Linked DNA regions of Homo sapiens: region 1 is linked to region 2. A link means that fine-mapping ties the variant in region 2 to the expression of a gene that starts in the linked region. Tissue or cell type: whole blood. Region 2 holds a variant in brackets; the other region holds the start of a gene. All regions are shown on one strand. Distances are from middle to middle.

Region 1 (2,757 bases), 23 kb before region 2:
GAGTTAGTTGTCGTCACACGTGTGTGTGTGTGTGTGTGTGTGTGTGTATAAAGAGTTATGGATGAGACACTGACAGTTCCCTTCTCTCATCTCCTAACTTTGGGACTGCAGAGGAGCGCACTCCTATCCCCACAACAGGACCTTCCCTGTATCTGTTAGGCTCTGCTCTTTGGGCAGGAGGATGGCAACACAGGGTGTAAGTACAAAGAGGTCTTATTACTGTCATTATTATATATCATTACTCCCGTAAGAATCTATTATTAACATGTTGATGAATAGACCTTTAAGAAACTGTGGGCCTGGAGGAACTGATCAAGATGGGGACAGAATGAGGACCTAAGAGAGCCCTCTTCCAGTGCCTGGCTTAATCTCAGGGCCCCCATCATTCTCTAAAGGGAATAAGAGTGGGGAGAGGGGAGGAAGAACATTTCTTGAGACTCAAGAGTTGTCAGGTCCTGTCTTGGGTCTTTCACAAATGTTATCCAACTTATTCATCAGGACAACCCCATGAGATGAGAATAAATTAATCCTCCTATTCGACAGATGAGGAAATTGACGGAGGTCAGTAAAGTTGCCCCAGGTGGGCAGGACACAGCCAACAAGGGAGAAGAGGTTTGAACTCAACTCTGCAAAGCTCTTGTGTTTACACAATATTCTAGCCAGAACAGAAAGAGACCTCTCCCTCTGCGTTCCCCTCCAGCTCTGTATGCGGGAGAAGTCCATTCTTGGGGAAGGCCGAGGGAGGACAGAATCTGCGGAGCGGAAGGAGCAAGGTTGGAGCTGCGCTTACACCTGGGACTGGCTGTGCCATCGGTCCAGCGTCGGCGCCTGCAAGTGTGCGGTGGAGAGGACTGCAGACAGTGGCATCCCCAGGTCACGGAGGGGGTCCCTCCTCCCCCACTACGAGGAGGGCATGAATGACCTCAAGCCTCAGCTCTCCTTTGTTGGCACTGGCTACTCTCTACAGGCCTCCCCGCGCAATGCATGGGGGTAGGAGTAGGAGCAGGTGAACTGTCCAAGCAGAGGCAGCGATGGACAGCCTCTCTTGGGTGCTGCACAGAGAAATCGGGCGATGGAGGAGGAACCCAACATGGGCTTGATGCAGAGGCTGGGGGCCCCATGGCGTGCCAAGTAACCAGCAGCTGTCTGACGCCTAACATGCAACTGGTGCCACTGCGCGTTCGCCAAGCAAGCCCACCCCCTTGCTAGCAGCGCGCTCTCCAATCGAGGAGATGCGCCTTCCCCCTCCCTTCCCCGCCATCTCCCCCTTCATTCAAGGCCTGGGGGAGCTGCGGTTCCGAGAAGCGGCAGACGGCAGCCAGAAGGCTTGGGCTGTTGAGTAAGCAGCCCCCTCTCAGTCCCGGCCCTCCCCGCCCCGCGCCCTGCGCCTCCAGTGAGTGACTGAGCCCCCGCTGCGGCCCCGCCCCCGGGGCCCTGCCGGAGCTGGTGCGCGGCGCGGAGGGGAGGGCCGGCCAGGGTAGGAATGCGCTGCGGGCGGGCGGCGCAGGAGGCGAGCGGCGGAACATGTAAGGGCACATCCCGCGAGCTGCCGCCCAGCGCGCAGACAGAGCCCAGGGGAGCAAGAGAACGGGCGGGCGGTGGGGCTCACGGCCTAGGGAGGCGCGGAGGCATCTGGCAGAGGCGGGTCGGGCTGGGCCAGCTGGGGTAGAGCGGAGGAGCGGGTGCCGGCTGAAGCGGGGCGGTGGGCGCGGAGCGCGCTGGGGGCACCGACACCACCTCACCGGCAGCCGGGTGCTGAGGGCCGCGGTGTGGGTGCGCGGAGCAGTCAGGGCGCAGGTGGGCAGCGCGCACGGCCTGCCAGCCCGGGGCGCCAGAATCCTGCGCTGCGGGGCCGAGAGGGGCGCCGCGCCCGCCGCAGCCTGGAGCTTTCCGCGAACCTCGGGGCGCCCATGACGGCGGCGGCGACGGCTACCGTGCTCAAGGAGGGCGTGCTGGAGAAGCGCAGCGGCGGGCTGCTGCAGCTGTGGAAGCGGAAGCGCTGCGTCCTCACCGAACGCGGGCTGCAGCTCTTCGAGGCCAAGGGCACGGGCGGCCGGCCCAAGGAGCTCAGCTTCGCCCGCATCAAGGCCGTGGAGTGCGTGGAGAGCACCGGGCGCCACATCTACTTCACGCTGGTGACCGAAGGGGGCGGCGAGATCGACTTCCGCTGCCCCCTGGAAGATCCCGGCTGGAACGCCCAGATCACCCTAGGCCTGGTCAAGTTCAAGAACCAGCAGGCCATCCAGACAGTGCGGGCCCGGCAGAGCCTCGGGACCGGGACCCTCGTGTCCTAAACCACCGGGCGCACCATCTTTCCTTCATGCTACCCACCACCTCAGTGCTGAGGTCAAGGCAGGTAAGCCCCCGGGGGACTGGGCCCTCTTCTCTCCTTCCCTCCCTTCTCTTTCCCCTACAGAGAGAATGAGGACTAGCATTCTACTTCAGAGCCGGACATCTTAGGGGGGAGGTTCCTGGGGCCAACTGAGGGCATGGGAGGCTTGGGCCAGTGGCCAACCCAGCAGATCCGGACTTTCCCCTGAGGCACCAGGTTGGCCGGTCCAGAATGTGATCCAGGTGTGTGAGAGGAAGATGGAAGCCCTGGGAGGGGGATACCTGGGTGAGATGAGCCTTCTTTCAAGTTGGTTCAGCCCTGACTCAGGTGGAAGGAAGTAGAGGGAGGTTGGCCTGCACATTGCCCCAGGCTGTGGGCCTCTGCTTTCCACGCAGAGCAGGGCTCCTGGACTTCGGCTTTCTGGC
Region 2 (2,757 bases):
TAAAAAGTTTTTTGTAGAGACGAGGTCTTCCTAGGCTGGTCTCAAACTCTTAAGTTCAAGGGATCCTCCTGCCTCACCTTGGCCTCCTGAAGTGCTGGGATTACAGACAAGTGCCACAATGCCTAAATAAGGTGTCCTTAAACAGAAACACATATAATACAAGGTTATACATTGATTTTATGTATTTATTTATTTATTTATTTATCTATCTGAGACAGAGTCTTCTCTGTCGCCCAGGCTGAAGTGCAGTGGTGTGATCTCAGCTCACTGCAACCTCCACCTCCCGGGTTCAATAGATTCTCGTGCCTTAACCTCCCAAGTAGCTGAGATTACAGGCATGTGCCACACCCGGCTAATTTTTGTATTTTTTAGTAGAGACAGGGTTTTGCTATGTTGGCCAGGCTGGTCTCGAACTCCTGGCCTTAAGTGATCTGCCTGCCTTGGCCTCCCAAAGTGCTGGGATTACTTACAGGCGTGAGCCACGATGCCCAGTCACAAACTAATTTTAAAAATTGATAAAAAACATTGTGATCACAGGCTTGCAAGAACATAATCCTGTATTTCCACTAGGAGCAATTGGTCAGTACTTGCTAATTCTGGGTTCCCAGAGACTTTATAGAATGTAACTACCCAAATAACAAGAATCTACCGTACTTACAGTTTTTCTCCAAGGCTTGAATATGTCAAGTGTGGCATTGTAGCAATTGCAGTTAATACTGTTCCCTGGTGTATAAGCTCTCGTGTTGATTCTCCTGAAGCCCCTAAGCTTCATGTGGGGGTCAGCTGCCTGAAGGTGGGATCCCTCCAGGAGTACACACAGACACATCACCAGCCTCATCTTCGCTGCTCATGCCTGAAACTTCTACCATGAATACTTTATTCATTCAGTTTCATTAAAAGGCCAACGTCTCTCTTGATGATTCACAGGGCTCTCTTCATTGACATTATCTTATTTGGCCTTCACAACAATTGCGATGGTAGTGTCATTGTTCCCATTTATAGATGAGTCTGAAGTTCAGAGAGGATAAATAATCCGACCAAGGTCACCTGGTTTGTTGATAGCTGTATTAGTCCCGTCCTCACACTGCTATAAAGAAATACCTGAGACTGGGTAATTTGTAAAGAAAAGAGGTTTAATTGGCTCATGGTTCCACAGGCTGTACAGGAAGCATGGCAGCATCTGCTTCTGGGGAGGCCTCAGGGAGCTTTTACTCATGGCAGAAGGCAAAGCGGGAACAGGCGTCCTGCATGGTGGGAGCAGGAGGAAGAGAGAGAGAGGGGAGGTGCTACACACTTAAAAATTTTTTTTTTGGAGACAGGGTCTCACTCTGTTGCCCAGATTGGAGTGCAGTGGCACAATCTCAGCTCACCGCAACCTCTGCCTCTCAGGCTCAAGCAATTCTCCTGCCTCAGCCTCCCGAGCAGCTGGGAATACAGGGATATGCTACCATGCCTGGCTAATTTTTGTACTTTTAGTAGAGATGGGGTTTCACTATCTTGGCCAGGCTG[G/A]TCTTGAACTCCTGACCTCAAATGATCCACCGGCCTTGGTCTCCCAACGTGCTGGGATTACAGGCGTGAGCCACCGTGCCCAGCCTACACACTTTTAATTAACCAGATCTTGTGATAACTCACTCACATCACTCACTCACTATCACGAGGATAGCACCAAGGAGATGGTGCTAAACCATTCATGAGAAAGCCACCCACATGATCCAACCACCTCCCACCAGGCCCCACCTCTAACACTGGAGATTACAATTTCACATGAGATTTGAGCAGAGACACACATCCAAACCATATTAGTGGCACAACAGTCAGAAAGCTTCAAATTCCACTGTCTTTCCACCACCAGACGCTGTCCTGGTAAAACATAAATGCTCCAGGGGAGGTAAAAGCCAGGTCTTGTTACTTACACTTTAGTGTGAATGAGTGCATTGAGATCCCCAAGGAAATTGACTGAGATCAGGTGGGTGATAAATATCTGATAAATACGCCTCTGCCTCTACCCTGGGCCAGGGATCACTGCTGCTTACTTGAATCACCCTGACTCCTCCTACCTCCCTTTCTGCCTGCAGTCCCTGCCCCGCTATCAACAGTTACCTTCCTAAAACTCAGGTTTGATTATCCTGCATCCCCTAAAATCAATCAGAGGATGCCTTTGCCTGTAGGGTGGGTCCACGTCACTTAGCTGGGATTCAAAGACTTTCCGATGACGTCAGCCTTCCTCTCTTGCCTCCCTTCCTACCAGCCTCCTATGGTCTGACCACAAAGAGAGGTTGCAGGATCTCACCATGCCTCTGCTTTCTCCCCTTCAAACTTTTGCTTGCATAGCTCCCTCTGCCTTTCTCTGCAATCTTAGTCAGCTGGGGCTGATAGAACAGAACAACATAGTCCTGGTGGCTTAAACAACAATTTATTTCTCATAGTTCTGGAAAACTGTGAAGGAGGCTGGGAAGTCTAAGCTCAAGGTGCTGGCAGATTCTTTGTCTGGTGCGGGTTCTCTTCCTTGTTTGCAGATGGCTGTCTTCTTATTGTATCCTTACATAATCAAGAGAAAAATAATCTGTCTCATGTTTCTTCTCAAAAGGGCACTAATTCCATTCATGAGGGCTCTACCTTCATGACCTCATCACCTCCCAAAGGCCCCACCTCCTAACACCATCACATTGCAGGTGAGGATTTCAACATATGAACTTTAGAGGGAGGCTGGGTGGGGTGGCTCACATCTGTAATCCCAGCACTTTGGGAGGCTGAGGT

The links. PIP is the estimated chance that this variant, and not a neighbour inherited with it, causes the effect. A credible set is the group of variants that fine-mapping cannot tell apart.
Region 1: PHLDA3 starts here. The variant in region 2 is the best candidate, but not a certain one, in a credible set for the expression of PHLDA3 in whole blood (TOPMed, PIP 0.55).

The regions. Positions count from the first base shown.
Region 1 is chr1:201,467,940-201,470,696 of GRCh38, reverse strand. It overlaps PHLDA3 (pleckstrin homology like domain family A member 3), which reads left to right and starts at 1,509. Exons shown (of 2, transcript NM_012396.5): 1 at 1,509-2,356. The coding sequence starts at 1,911. The coding sequence ends at 2,294. RefSeq lists silencers at 1,240-1,469, 1,680-1,989 and enhancers at 1,490-1,609, 1,124-1,838, 2,060-2,199, 2,270-2,329.
Region 2 is chr1:201,444,447-201,447,203 of GRCh38, reverse strand. No RefSeq gene overlaps it. Among named protein-coding and RNA genes, the nearest start is that of PHLDA3, 23 kb to the left of the region's middle. The variant G/A (reference allele first, on the strand shown) is at 1,510.